Homo sapiens: one gene and its partner. The protein of the gene in region 1 purifies or fractionates together with the protein of each later gene. This does not show direct contact. Each region holds a gene or a part of one and is shown on either strand. Other genes may lie near its edges.

Evidence for each region.
Region 2: the proteins of ABCF2 (region 1) and NUDCD1 purify together in Homo sapiens (affinity purification with mass spectrometry, with the first as the bait; 2 studies listed by BioGRID). This does not show direct contact.

Annotation. Positions count from the first base shown.
Region 1 is NC_000007.14:151,210,310-151,218,116, reverse strand, and holds the end of ABCF2 (ATP-binding cassette sub-family F member 2), read left to right. Parts: coding exon 1-36; intron 37-2,087; coding exon 2,088-2,150; intron 2,151-2,384; coding exon 2,385-2,513; intron 2,514-3,034; coding exon 3,035-3,238; intron 3,239-3,925; coding exon 3,926-4,063; 3' UTR 4,064-6,633; downstream 6,634-7,807. Other genes in the region: ABCF2-H2BK1 (ABCF2-H2B protein), read left to right, coding at 1-36, 2,088-2,150, 2,385-2,513, 3,035-3,238, 3,926-4,059; H2BK1 (histone H2B type 2-K1), read left to right, coding at 7,799-7,807.
Region 2 is NC_000008.11:109,239,532-109,247,785, reverse strand, and holds the end of NUDCD1 (nudC domain-containing protein 1), read left to right. Parts: intron 1-2,304; coding exon 2,305-2,464; intron 2,465-4,484; coding exon 4,485-4,777; 3' UTR 4,778-6,867; downstream 6,868-8,254.

The DNA of each region.
Region 1 (7,807 bases):
GGGAAGTCAACTCTTCTGAAGCTGCTAACTGGAGAGGTATGGTGCCAAGGTGGGCGTGGATCCCTCTAAGATTAGGCCTTGCGATGGTTAAGGAAGAGGGGAGTGATGCAGGGGCTACTACTTTGGGAGGGCCTGAGTACCCTGGTGGTGAGTGAGCCATCTGGAGGGGTGGAGCAGCAGCCAGGAGAGGGGGAATGTCTGGTTGGACAGTGCTGAGGCTGGGGGCTGTTTTCCTGGGACAGGGATAGGTAGGGAGGAGTCTTAGAGTGTGTGTGTGAATACATGTATGTGTTTAAGCACGTTTCTATTTTCTTTTTTTTTTTTTGAGGTGGAGTCTCGCTCTGTTGCCCAGGCTGGAGTGCAATGTGCGATCTCAGCTCACCGCAACCTTCATCCCCCGAGTTCAAGCAATTCTCCTGCCTCAGCCTCCCAAGTAGCTGGGATTACAGGCACACGCCACAGCTAATTTTTTTGTATTTTAGTAGAGATGGGGTTTCACCATGTTCATTAGGCTGGTCTTGAACTCCTGACCTCATGATCTGCCCACCTCGGCCTCCCAAAGTGCTGGGATTACAGGCGTGAGCCACCGCGTCTGGCCCATGTTTCTATTTTCAATCAGAGCATTTAGAATATAGGAACATCTGTGCATTTAGGGATGCTGCAGGTTCTCAAGTAATGTCATTTCATTAATATTGATGAAAAATAGAAATGATTCCCAGCTGGGGCCACTGTCTTTGTGGAGTTTGCACTTTCCCTTTAACGTCTACATGGGTTTTCTCTGGTACTTCAGTTTCTTCCCAATTCCAAAGCTGCACCTGTCAGGTTACTTGGAACGTCTCAGTGGTTCCAGTCTGAATGAGTGCGGGTGTGTGAGTGCATCCTATAATGGAATGGTGTCCTCTTCAGGGCTGGTTCTTGTCTTGTTCCCTGGGTTGTGGGATGGGCTCCAGCTGCCCATGATCCTAAACTTGAATAAGCAGGTTGGAAAATGATAGAATGAATGAATATAAAATATTGTAAAAGAAAAATTCATAAAGTTTATGATAACCATACAAATGCAGTCAGCAAACCAGCCACATTCGTGATTATTTTTTAACTGTGTGGTGGTAGGAGGTGCTCCTTACAGTTTTCCCTTTGCAAACATTTATTCCTTGGTTTAACCCACCACTCTTAAAATTGCCATCACTCACTGATTCACCAAAAATTGGGTAAATATCTTACCTTGTTTTTATTAATCTTTCTTAAGTGTATGTATAGCTCACATGTATTTTGATGTTGAATATTAGAAGTGACTGGGTTTTTTGGCCAGGTGCCGTGGCTCACACCTGTAATCCCAGTGCTTTGGGAGGCCGAGGCAGGCAGATCACTTGAGATCAGGAGTGTGAGACCAGCCTGGCCACATGGTGAAACCCCCTCTCTACTAAAAATGCAAAAAAAAAATTAGCCAGGTGTGGTGGCGGGTGTCTGTAATCCCAGCTACTCCAGAATCTCTTGAGCCTGGGACAGAGAAGTTGCAGTTAGTCGAGATCTCGCCACTGCACTCCAGCCTGGGCAACAGAGCGAGACTCCCTCTTAAAGAAAAGAATCTTTGGATCTTTATTTAGAAGTTTGGTGATCTTTTTTTGTGACCAAAAATGCTGCAGGAACCTAATTCTTGTTTATATCAGTTAGCCTGTGGCAAAATTAGTTTTGCTATATGTTGTTTCACTTAAAGTGAAACTTTAAAATAGGTTCTGTTTCTAAGAACCTATCGATGACAGTGACAACTTTGAGGACTTAACTGTTTTTAATTTTAGAAAATGTATGTTGCACCTACATCCAAGTCCTTTGTTATACAGCATAGTGCATTCAGTAGACATTTTATAACTACTTAAATTGTATCTTTGCCTCTTGAGAACATCTGCTTCAGTACATCTTCCTAAATATTTTTAGAGTGGCCAGAATAGCAGTGTGCGAGTTGGTGATGTATTCTTTTTAGGAAGTTGAGTCTTGTTCAGTGTGAACATGTGTTTGTTTGCCTGCTCTGCCTATGTTTCTAACTGGGCTTCCTTTGTTTCATGCTTACGTTTCTACTTTTTTCTTCCTAGCTACTACCCACAGATGGCATGATCCGAAAACACTCTCATGTCAAGATAGGGCGTTACCATCAGGTACAGGCCTGGGGTTGGGATCCGGGGAATTGCCCAGGGTATAGGGAGGGGCTGTATCTGGCTGAGTTCCAGCCAGCCGCCCCCACCCCCTGGCAGGAATTCCAGCCTAGGTGGCTCCTACCTGCTTCTTGAACCCAGAACAGGTGCCTGGGATAGAAATAGGAAGTTACCTAGTAGGGTTTATTTTGAAGCGGGATGCCAGTCACACCCGGGTGGCTTCCATTTTTCCTGTAGCATTTACAAGAGCAGCTGGACTTAGATCTCTCACCTTTGGAGTACATGATGAAGTGCTACCCAGAGATCAAGGAGAAGGAAGAAATGAGGAAGATCATTGGGCGATACGGTCTCACTGGGAAACAACAGGTCAGTAAAGGAGGGTGTGGTGAGGATGCCAGATAGCTGGCAGACTGTGGCTGGGTGGGTCAGGGGATACTGTCCTGGCAGCCTGGGTTTGGAAGCTGTCCAAACCAGAGTCTCCTCCATTTGACTCCCCTAAGAACCTACTACCTTTTCTTTACTCTAGGTTGTTATGTAATGGAGCATTTTGAGGGGGCAAGGATAGCGTGCCAGTCTCTGACATGCCCTTGTGCCATAGTGCTTGAGGGCAAAGGAACTTGTAATCTAGAAAACAAATTTCTGGATTCAGATCTGGAAGGATCCAATTCATTGCCAAGAGAGCGAGAGGTGTGGGCTTAGTAATGGCAAGGGCTTCAGGTTTCCGGATGAGTCTCTTTCAGGCCTCAAGAGACTAGTGGGTCTCTCTGAGCCTCACTTTTTATAAATGGCGATGCTAATGGAGGAGTCAGGGAGAAATGAGGGAGAGATGAGCTGTGCTGTTTGGCGGGGATAATGCCAAGTTATATGTAGGTCACGGTTCTACTCAGGTGAGCCCAATCCGGAACTTGTCAGACGGGCAGAAGTGCCGAGTGTGTCTGGCCTGGCTGGCCTGGCAGAACCCCCACATGCTCTTCCTGGATGAACCCACCAATCACCTGGATATCGAGACCATCGACGCCCTGGCAGATGCCATCAATGAGTTTGAGGGTGGTATGATGCTGGTCAGCCATGACTTCAGACTCATTCAGCAGGTGAGGCCCTGGCCAGGGGGTGAGGCACAGCAGAGCTTCTAGGGGGTTGGGTAGGGTAGTCATGGCATGTGGAGGGTGCATAATACCCGCCTACTGAATTAAGAGAAGGGGCTCAGAGTGTAGACACAGGTGGTGAGGACCAGTTCTTATGCCTCTTTGGGGCTACTTAGAAAGCCTTAACTGAAACACTTCATTTCTTCAGTAGCTATCTGGAGATGTCAACCAACTTAGCATTTTGGGCCCAAATGGGAAAGAGAGTTGGGTAGAAAACGGTGCTTTTACTACTGTCCCAAGATTCTTCAGTCCAAAAATAGTATTCTAAGGAGGATTTTGATTAGACAGCTACCACAGTCATTTGAGAAAAAGTTGTTGCTCATTCCTCTGAAGCTCTGGGGAAGATGAGAGGTGGAGAAAAGAAGGCTGAGAGTGAAGCCTCTGAATAGATCTAGGCCCTGCCAGGGAGCTGACAATAGGAGTGACACAGCAGTTCCTGGCTTGGAAGGCTCCAAACCTGATGATGGTACCCTTGGGTTAGAACATCCCAAATAACTTAGAAGTAGTGAGACAGTGAGTTGGATATGGGTTTGGGGGGCGGAGTTTTCTTCCTAGACGCCCCTCAGGACAGTCTGCTGGGCAGAGGCAGGGACAGTGACTAGCCCAGGATTAAGTCCAGGTTTTGCTTTCTAGGTTGCACAGGAAATTTGGGTCTGTGAGAAGCAGACAATCACCAAGTGGCCTGGAGACATCCTGGCTTACAAGGAGCACCTCAAGTCCAAGCTGGTGGATGAGGAGCCCCAGCTCACCAAGAGGACCCACAACGTGTGAGCCCTCTACCTGGGTTCGGGTCAGGAGCTCCATCTGGGAACTAACAGCTGCTAACCTGACCAGCCGCTCAGGACAGGACCCTGGGGCTACACTCCTGCATTGCTGCAATACTGCTCCCCCAGCCTCTCCCCTGCCCCTCAACCTGCCTTAGCTGCACTCTCTTACCTACAGCTGGACAGTACCTGTCTGTTTCCTGTCCTCCTTCCAGTTACATCTGTCCATGTCTGGACTCGGCTGGCCGTTCCCTCCAGCCCCTTGCTGGTTATCTTACTCTGAGTGTGATGCAGTCAGAGGCACCTGCGGGTTAGCCCAGGGGCCCAAGCCCTGGATTTGGCCTGCGGAGGAGCTTAGGATCCTCGTTTTCTGGGTTTTGGTGATGTTGGAGGAGTACCCCCCAGCCCACCGCCCCGATTCCTTTTTGCTTCTGGTTTGGAGCTCCGGACCAGGACCTTCGTCCTGGTCAGTTTTTAAATAATTATTTAGCAGTGTAACTTTTAGACCTGCGTGACATCTACAAAGCGCCCAATAAAGAAAGAGGAAGCCACGGTCCCTACCTTCCTTCTCGGGTCTCTGGGGCCTTCTCCTCCCTGCAGTGCCAACATGCACTGCCCACAGCAGGAGCTGGATCCAGCGTCAGTGTGTCGATGGGAACTGAAGACTAGTCCATAGGAGCTGGAAGAACTTTGTCCCTTTACTTCTGATTTGAAATTGTACCTTTTCTCAGGCCTGTGATTCACAGACTTTAACATGAATCAGAATCACCTGGAGGGCTCATGCAATCAGATTGCCAGATCTCGCCTCAGCGTTTCTGGTTCAATAGGTTTTGGGGGAGACCAAGAACGTTAACATTTCTAGCAAGTTTCCAGGTGATGCTGTTGTTGCTGGTCTAGAGACTATTTTGAGAACCACTGTCCAGGAGCGTGGTTTTCTGATTGTGATCTGAGGTTCTGCCCCAACTGCACAGCAGTTGGGCTGCTTGTTAAAAATGCAGGCCAGGTGCGGTGGCTCACACCTGTAATCCCAGCGCTTTGGGAGGCTGAGGCAGGTGGATCACTTGAGCTCAGGAGTTCAAGACCAGCTTGGGAAACATGGCAAAACCCGTCTTTATGTGCCTGGAATCCCACCTGCTCAGGTGGCTAGGGTGGATGGATCGCTTGAGCCCAGGAGGTGGAGGTTGCAGTGAGCTGAGATTGCACCACTGCATTCCAGCCTGGATGACAGAGCAAAACCCTGTCTCAAAAAAATGCAGACTGGCCAGGCACAGTGGCTCACACCTGTAATCCGACTGTAAGCTCATCACCTTGGGAGGCCACTGTAGGAGGATCAATTGAGCCTAGAAGTTCAAGACCAGCCTGGGCAAAGTAGGGAGACCCCTTCTCTACAAATAGTAATAAAATGAACCGGGCATAGTAGCATGTGCCTGCGGTCCCAGCTGCTCTGATAAGAGGAGGCTCACTTGAGCCCAGGAGGTTGAGGCTGCAGTGAGCAGAGCGTGCCGCTACACTCCAGCCTGATGACAGACCGAGACACTGTCTCAAAAAAATAAAAAAATTCAGATTGCTGAGCATCAGACCTATTGATTAATCGCATTTGGTAGAATGAGAGAGGTGCAGAGATGGCCAGGAGTTTGCATTTTCACACCAACGTCTGTGAACCTCTCTTCCTATTGGGATACAGGAAATTTTGTATTTTTACCTGTCCACAGCCATAGTTATCATCACTGTTGAATTCACTTCCAGCCCAGGGCTCTGCATACCTTATCTGGGTCTTTTGAACTTCAATAGCATTTCACCAGTGGCCATCCTTCCTGGTGTGGATTCATCACTCTGCCTCTGAAATCAGCCATCCCTATGGGAAGACACAGCCATGATTTTTCAGTACTCATAATACAGCCAGGACTGGCGGGAGCAACTGTCCCAGATGGTGCTTAAACCCCTTAGGAGCTCATGATCTTCTTGGAAAGCCAGTAAGACAGAACCATACAGGACACAAATTAGATGCTAAATTGTGATTTAGATAGGAGACAGAAGTATTCAAAAAGGAGGGAAATTTCTTGTGAGTAGCTGCCCAGAAAGGTGGAATTGGTGTGCTCTCACTTGAAAAATGAGTAGGATCTTCTCAGATGGCCACAAAGTCCAGGAGCTGCCCTGGGCAACAGGGACAGGAGCCTCCCGTGAGACACTGCAGCTGAGACAGATGGGAGTCCTCTGACCCCAGAGGGTACTGGCTTGACTGCTTTATGCCTTAAGTGGGGCCTGGAGCAAAATGGCCCAGGTTAGTCTGTCCTGAGAGTCCAGAGCCTTGGTTCAGGGGAGAATGGCATCTGGAGAGTGGGCTGCTGGGATAATGGGGACAGTGAGGGACAGAGCCCTTGATACTTAAGGAAGTGCTGGATATTGCTAAGAATTCAGGTAGTCTCGGGATCTCCAGAGTCTCCATACTAGGACAGGAGATCTTCAGAACCTGGAGGAATGGAAATAGTCTAGTCAGCTTATTTGTCAAGAAAAATGTCAACCTTGGTAATTTAAATAATGCTTTAAAAGTCCACAAAATACATATTTCTAAAATTAGCAGTGCCTTGTTTTGGATTGAGAAGTGGCCTGTTAATTCTCTTAAACCTTAGCCCGTAGGATGTGGCCAGCCGTTCAGAGCTGGGTGGAGAGGTAAGTTGATTGAGGGGTTGCTAGCTTTAACACAGCCAGCAGGTGATGCTGGTCTTTGGAACCCTTCTCCCACCTCTCAATTTGTAACATCCTCTTTTCCCCCAAGCCCCTATACCTTTCATATTGCTCCAGGTTTCTTTAATCACAGCATTCAAGGGCCTGAAGTATTTGTTCCCCCATAGGTGCTAAGTGAGACAATTGACTTTCTCCATTTTGCAATGGGCTTTTCTTCCCTTTACTGCTAACTCCCAAGACCGCCACGTCTGCTTTTCTGGTGAGCACCTATTGCTTTTCTGCTTCTCACCTCCTCCAGTGGTCTTCCTCCCTGTCAGCCTCTTCACCACCTGGGGAGCTTCTGCTATCTGCATCTAGTCCAGGCTCAGGCGTTTTGCTCATCTGCCTTCAGTCCAAGCCTCATTATACTCCGCTCACACTGATTCCACTCTACCTTTCACACCGTTTCTTTCTCTCATTCTTCCCAATTAAAGGATACATCCTACAAGGATACATCCTACAATGGGTATATGAAGGATACCCTTCATATACCCATTTGTACCAAGAAGCGGCCTCTAGCTACTCGAGCCCTCCTCACCATGGGTACCACCACTTTTAGCCCCTTCACCCTTCTCTGGTGGTTTGATGTGAACCAGTCTTGTCTCTTCACCTCCACTGGGGCGCAGTGGGGGAGGGAGCTTGCATTCCTTCTGGAGTCTGCAGCACTCTGAGCTGTGCTGGCACCTGTGTGCTCCGTGATTACAGGCTGGTGGGCTGGAGTTGCCTGAACTTTTAAGAAGTGCGTAAATACACTGGGAGATGGTTGGGTGGGGGAGGGGACCCGGTGAAGGGTTTCTTAATTCAGAGGGATTACTTGTGGGAGAGGAAGGAACAATTAGTCTCTTTTCAAGGTTAGCCCAGAGCATGTTCAGGATTGGGATTGAGTCACGCCCCTTACCTCCCACCTGCCCCCCCCCCCCCTCCCAGGTGCATGTCCCCAGCCACACCTGGTGGGGCAGCTGACTTGATAAAAAGTAGCTCCAAGGGGGTGGGTGAGGGCTATTCGAGAAGCAGGAGGATGAGCGCT
Region 2 (8,254 bases), on another chromosome or scaffold:
AATTCAAGCAGCTCATATAACCACGAGAGTGGGGGAATTCTGAGAGCAACTGATGGTTGAATTGAGTCTTAGAGGATAAGTGGGAATCTATCAGGTAAAAAAAATACAAGGAGTCCAAACAGAATGCTATGTCAAAGGTATGGCAAAGACAAGCTGTATGAAATTGCTAGTTTCACAATTAACAACACTTGACACAGTCGCCATAATGGAAATATGCGTAAGGTAAGTGGCTGCTGAAGTGAAGAAACATCTAAGTCAGAGTGAGGGGCTCATAATAAGGCACCTACCTTCATTCTTATCCTCTTATTTTCATGATTGATCTCCCTTGGTGGTCACCTTTCACTTCGTGGTTCAAGGTCCTCTATTCTTTTCTCACTGCTGTCTCTTCAAGTATGGATGGACCAGAGATCATTCAATTATATTAATCCTCATAATATTCAATACATTCTTTAGGCACTTGGCTCATGAAAGTAGATGTATTGTTGTGAAAATATTGTTTCAACTTGTATTTTATTTTAGCTGTTGTTTATTTTTCTTCTGTGAAAGCCCTTGGTTAAAAAAAATAGAGTATCAGAGTTGGAGTACAGGGAAGAGAGCTGAAGCAGTGTTAGGTCTGTCAAACATAATAATAAAAGGCCAGTTAGGTAGTGGTGACTTTGAAAATAAACCTCATCTAGCCACTGATCATCGGGAGTAAGGAGAGAAAAGAAATAGTCTGTGGTCTCTGTGTGCTGGCCTTCTCCCCTTATTTTGTAGAGAGCAAGCACTGGCTCTACGAAAAAGCCCTATTTCCCTGGCATTGCTGGGGAGCAGAAGATGGGTTGCTCTGACACTGTATTCTCCTGTGACCAATAGCCTGTGTTGTCACAGCTTTACCAATAATAGGTCCCCTTGCTGGAGAGCCACTTCACAGCTTTCCCTGTTGAATTCAGGTCAGGTCTCCACTTCTTACTTTAACCCAATCTTTTACGGTTCTCCAGTCTGCTTGCAAACTCCTAGAATCAATTACATATTTATAAGTACTGTGCATATTTTATATTTTCTACATTTGATGTGATTTTTGTTGGTATTCTGTTTCGTATTTTCAACTCTGATAATAACATTTCTCATAAAGAAGACTATCCTTACAACATGTCTTCATTTAGAAAAAGTATTGCTGTAGATGAAATTCAGTGAGTTTCAATTTGATGATTTTGTATTAAAATGCATTTCTTTAGGCATCAATATTGCAGTAACAATTATTGATGTGTTACAATAACAAATGTTGACATTATTGACATATTGACATTGATACTTTAATTAAGCAGTACGTTTAAGTAAATAGTTTTAAACATCTGAGTGTGAATTCCAGCATTGTGATATTTCTCTTTAGCCTAGAACAAGTTACTCAAACTCTCCAAGCCTGTTCTTTCATCCCTTAAATGAAGATAATAATAGCCTTGCGAGTTGTTAAGATTAGTATTTATAACATGCCTGGTTATAAATGTTATGAGAGTGTGCTCATAAATTCTGGTAGTGTCATTGTTCTTGGTAATTATTACAAGTTAGCATTAGTAAACTTCATGTGTGTATTCTATGGCCTAAAAATAGTCTGCTTATAAAATTGGTGCTTTATATCAGCAGTCCCCAACCTTTTTGGCACCAGGGACCAGTTTTGTGGAAGACAGTTTTTCCATGGGCCTGTGGGGGCTTGGTGGATGGTTTCAGGATGAAACTGTTCCACCTCAGATCATCAGGTATTAGTTAGATTCTCATAAGGCAGACAGCCTAGATCCCTTGCATGTGCATTTCACAATAGTGTTCACCCTCCTGTGAGAATCTAATTCCACTGCTGATCTGACAGGAGGTGGAGCTCAGGCAGTAATGCTCCCTTGCCTGCTGCTCATCTCTTGCTGTGCGGCCCAGTTCCTAAAAGGCCACTGACTGGTACCAGTCTGCGGCTCAGTGACTGGGGACCCCTGCTTTATATCGTGTTTTAAACTATTTACTAACAATTAAGAGGTGGTATATCACGTGGTGATTAAGAACATAGACTCTGGGTCCAAATTTCAGCTCCATGACTTATGGCCAGGCTGACCATCGACAAGTTACCTAAATGCCTTGTGCATCACTTTCCTCAGCTTTGAAATGAACATAACAGTAGCACATTTATCTCAGGGATATTATGAGGAGTCAATCAGATTAAGTATATAAAAAGTATAAAACAGTTGCTGACACTTAATGCTGGCTGTCAGCTTCTGCCATTGTTATTGTTGCTATTATTAATTTGTTGTTGAGTAAATTTTTTTTTAAATCACTTTTTAGGTGAATCTTGGAAGCAACCAGTACCTTTTCTCTGTCATAGTGGATCCTAAAGAAATGCCCTGCTTCTGTTTGCGCCATGATGTTGATGCCCTACTCTGGCAACCACACTCCAGCAAACAAGATGATATGTGGGAGCACATCGCAACTTTCAATGCTTTAGGTATAAAGCAAACTCTTTGACATTTTCCATGAAATCAGAAATACAGTCATCATTCATTTAAAGTTCATTTCTTTTTTTTCTTTTTAATTTGAGCTGTCCTGATTACATTTAGATTGATTTGCGCTATGATTTGTTTGCTTGTACTAGTTGTGAGTGTTAGCACTGTTGGAACATTTAGACTAATCTGTTTTTATGCTTGTACAGAAGATCAACACAGAATAGAAATGAAAGTGGTTATCTAACCACTTGAATTATTCTAATAAGTCATTTGCTTTTTCTAATTCTGTAAGCCATATAATACTGGAGTCTGAGCAAGGAGCTTGATAATACCCTACATGGAACTGGTGTTCAAGTTTCTTCAGAGTAATCTTCAGAAACATCATAGAATTCCCCTAAGGTGTAATGCACATTAGGAGACATCTTTTGTCAAAATTAAGTACAAAAGAGAGCCATTATAATGAAAATACTTATGGAAAGCGGTGATAAGCAGAAATTAAATTTATTTGGTAGGATAAAAGGAAAAAAATCAGTTTTAAAATTAGGGCTTGACAATGTTTAAACTACTTAATTATAGACGTATGCAATCATTGATTTTCTGTCAAAATGCATTAGTATTGTGTGACAGAAATTTTTTATGTGAATTAGCCACAGTTGTTGCTTTATTGAAAGGTTATTTTAAACAGGCAGCAAGAAGTGAAGTTACGTATTTTGATGGCTATATGTGCACAACCCTAATTGTAGAAGAAATTTATTAATTATCCCTTATAGTTAATAATGTAGGCTGCTAAACTGGTTCAGACTCCAAATGGATTTTTATGACCTGAAGTACAAAGTTTGGTTAACTAATTTAACCATATAATTTTTAGCCTCCCTACTATAATGCTATTTTTTAATTATCTATACTTTGGTCAGAAGAAAGCTCTATCATATCATCTTTAGATGCTCAGATGTTCTATTTGTATCCCCAAATCCCCTATTATAGGGGAATTCTATGCTTAATTCTAAGTTAAATCAACATATATTAGATATGTACTCTTGAAATATTATATACATTATTCTGTCAAGGTTAGCCTGGATAGCTACTTTAAACTATTTAAATAGGTATCTAAATCTTCACTTTTCCTGCTTCAAACCTGCTTAATATTTTTAAAAACAGTATTGATCTGCATGTGCTCAGTAGTTCCTTTGCTTATTCATTGTTTGATGAGATCTCAATTTTAATTAATGTTATATTCTTATTTTACATGATCATAAATACCTAACATTTGCTAACCATGTCACTATCTAAAAATCATAATTTATATTTTGGAATATAAATGTTGTTTTAATCCAAAAAGATACTTTTTAAACATGTACATGAATTAAGATAAGGATTTTTTTCAGTTTAGAGACTTGAAATTATTTTTGAAGTTATAGTGATCAACATTCTACTTGTGGGGGCTAAAAGTACAAAAAAATCCAGTTACAGTGTTGGTATTGATGTATAAAAATATCACTAACATTTTAGGGATAATAAGAGAATGCATCACGAATACTAGTACATTCAGGGATACATTATGAACAGAAAACTAAAATAACTTTATGATGGTATCCTATACACATTTTCCAATTTATTTAAGAGGAAAAAAATGGTTCTGTGATGCCCTATCCGTAACTCACGAAGCTAAATATTAAATTGGCACTTAAAGATATTTTGTCATGTATTGAGTGTTTTAGATTTTAGAATTTTAGTGTTCGAATTATTCGTGGAAATTAAATGAAGCTATATTACGCTTTTTTTGAAGCGAGAAAGCCATATCTGTTTTGTTCCTTAGGAATTAAAGTCGTATTTTTGTACCAGATGGGAGAGACTGATTGTGGCTAATCGTTAATGATTCAGAATTATATACCTTATGGTATATATTTTACTTGGGCATTTTAATTTGTAATAAACATTGCAAAATATTAAATGTTAAATCATCATTTTTCCCCTTCTGTTTAATATATAGTTTTTCTTTTGTTTGTCTCATATTCTTGGCAGGCTATGTCCAAGCATCAAAGAGAGACAAAAAATTTTTTGCCTGTGCTCCAAATTACTCGTATGCAGCCCTTTGTGAGTGCCTTCGTCGAGTATTCATCTATCGTCAGCCTGCTCCCATGTCCACTGTACTTTACAACAGAAAGGAAGGCAGGCAAGTAGGACAGGTTGCTAAGCAGCAAGTAGCAAGCCTAGAAACCAATGATCCTATTTTAGGATTTCAGGCAACAAATGAGAGATTATTTGTTCTTACTACCAAAAACCTCTTTTTAATAAAAGTAAATACAGAGAATTAATTATTCTAACATATTGGCCTCTTTGTACTGGAAAAGTATTCAGTGGTACCTGGAGGTCTGGACAGTTATACTGTAACCTCTTAAGTTTTAATGTGCTAAATATATCTTGTATGATTTTTTATTTTTTAATAACATTGGAAATATATTCAAGAGATTATGATTCTGTAAAGCTGTGGAATGAAGCTGCAGATTTAGAGAACATTGGCTTCTGAAAAAAAAAAAGAGTGAAGATAGTACTAGCAAGTATACTTATTTTTTAAAACAGGCTAGAATCTCATGTTTTATATGAAAGATGTACAATTCAGTGTTTAAAAATAAAAATATTTATTGTGTACTCTGTTCGTTGATTAGTTGCTACAGGCTGTACCTATAAGATGTACAGGATAATAGTTAAATGTTGAGTATTGTACATATGTATTTAAGTGGATTGAATAACTGAGTCTACATGGAGGAGGAAATGCTAGAGAACAGCAGGTCTAATATTTTTTAAGTTTACTGAGAGACCTTTATTATTATTTTCAAATTAAGTATAGCTTTATGTAACTTTTAGCCAGTTGCTCTGCCACAGACATAGACAAAGAGAGATAAGATTTCACATTATCCATCACTGCATAACAAACCACACCAAAACTCAGTGGTTTAAAACAAGGACTTTTATTATTTTTCACGATTCAGTGAGTTGGCTGTCTCTGCTGTACAGGGCCTCTCAGCCTCCAGTAGACTAGACGAATCTTCTTTCCATAGTAGAGAAAACATCTTAAGAGAGCAAGCTCCAATATGCAAGAGCTTATCGATCCTGTACATCTATCATATTTACTAATGTTCCATTGGACAAAGCAAATCACATGGCCAAGTCTAGAGTCAGAATGAGGGGACTACACAAGCTGACAGCGGATGGTATGACTCATTGGGGGCCATTGATGGAACAATCTTACCACACAAGGACAAATTATAATTTATCCTTGTGGCTCTCTTTATTTTTCTAACAACTTCAACAAAATAATCCTGTTTATATGTTATAGTTTCTTGCCACAAATTTTGTTTTTTCAAACTTACCTTTCCAGGTTTGTTTTAGTATGTATGTACCTGGAAATTTTTATTACTTTTTATACCATTTCAAGATATGTATCTTATATAAACCTCAAGTTGGATTTTATATTTTAATAAGGAAGTTAAGACCTTCATTTAAGAGGCAGAAGATTAAGATAAGAAATATAAGATAGAAAAGCTTTGTTCCTAACATATCTTTTGCCTGTCTGGGCAAGTATTTGACTCAACTAAATTTTAATGAACGAATGAATGACAGAGAGGAGGAAAAAAGATGAGGATTGCATACATGTTCTAAACCCTTTGTCAGATTGCAGTTTCCTAGAGAGTATTGAGGTGCTAGGTAGAAAGTTAGGAAAGGTCCTGAGGACTGGTATTGACAATTGGAGTCCTAATAGTACTCTATTCGTATTAGGAAAGAGAGACTAGATACCAAACATCACGAGATCATAGAGATGGAAAACTGTATAGTAACCAAAAACCAAAACAGTGATATTTCCAGAACTTTTTAGTATTGTTGTAAAACTTCATGAAACAAAAGACCATTTAAATAGTGAATTATTAAAAATCTTTATGATGGGAAAGTAGATCTAAATTTTCTCTAAAATTTTCCCCAAAGATAATATCCTCTTAGGGAACATAAGAAAAATGTATAATAAAAATGTGGTGCTTAATTAACCATGACTATGTATATATTGCCAATTTTAGTAATCAATATTCTTTGTGCATGTGATTTTTTTGCATGATTAATGTTGAATTGAAAGCTCTCAGGATAATTAATCCTAAATATTGTCGCATGTTGACCTACGTTAAAAGATGAATAGGTCTAGAGCCGTGATTTCAAGCTATTTTCCTGAAATGCTTCAGGGATTCCATAAACATTTAAACAATGTTCTAAGGTACATATACTTAGAACATTGAGATATATACTACAAGTGCTAAGAATATAGTACCTTGTATTTTTGTTGATTTTTATCATGTTTTAAATAGGAATTTATAAAATATTTATGATAGTAATAAAGTAGTATTTTATGTGTTTTGCATATTAAGAGTCATTAACAATATTCACTCTTTTAACACATTTAAGCATCAACTATGTACCTTAGCATGATTTTTTCAGTATTAAGGATAATATATTACTAAGGATAAAGAGACAATCTACATTTTAATGATTTTCAGATAAAATTTCTTTTTAGGGAAAAAAAGAGGAGAGGGTGGCATAGAGTGGTTGCTTTCCTGCTAAGGAAGTCTGACCAGGGCTAGAACCTTGGGGACTACCCACAAGAGTCAGGTAGAGGAGTTGCCAATGGGAAGAGTTAGAAAAAAGAATCAGAGTGTCAAGAAATTAGGAATGGTTAACAATGTTAAAAAAAATACTCTTAAATAAAGTATACTCATCAAATTTCTACATAAAAGGGAAATGACTGTACAGAACAAGTTAAACCATCATTACACAGGAATTTCTAATATTTTGTGTTATTAACTATAGAAAAGAACAGATGGTAAGTTTATGTGTGGCAAGTCATATAAGAAGGCAAAACTGATACTTATCACTGATTATTACTGGAAGAATATTCTAATTACTTCTTAGTAGTAAGTGTGTCTTACTGAACAAGTAATAATAGTTGAGTGGTAAAAAACAAAAGCCCAATGATGGAAGTATAGAAGTAATAAAGCAAAGAGAAGTAAGGCCTTCTAGAATTGGTAAGAAAGAATAAATGCACAAAAAGAGCCAAGGTAAAAGGTACCCAACTAGATATCAAGATACATCATGAAGCAGTAAAAAGAGTAGCATCATTGCATTAGTAAACAAAATAGACACACATTTAATCGTCCTATACTTACAAGAAGAAAATATCTATATTCTCAAGGTTGAGAAGGCTTCTTAAGATCCAGAAGGCAAAAATATAAGCGAAAGGATTGATGAATTTGATCATTACAAAATGTAAAATTTCTTTATGACCTACTTTTGGTATAAGATAAAGCAACAGACTGAGGAAAGATATGTGACTTATGCGTAATGTATGAATGTTAAAATCTAGAACATAAGAACTATCATTTAATAAAAAAGCAAACAAGTTATACAAAAGGAAAGCAGACAAAAGATATGAACAGTTAATTCACAGAAAAGAAAATAAAGATGGTCAGTAAAGCTACAGTAATCAAGAAAATGTGGTATTGGCACCAATTTCAACAAATAGATCCATAGATCAGAATAAAGAGTCCAGATGGAGACTCAGACACATATGGTCAGTTGATTTTAGTCAGAGATATTTCAATGAAGAGGCAATTCAAAATGCAGAGATAATTTGATGGAGAAAAGATATATTTTTAACAAGTGGCGCAAAAACAATTGGGTATTCATTTTTGCCTTTGTAGTAGCCTAAATAGTGGCCACCTGAAGATATCAGGTTCCAATCCCTGGAACAT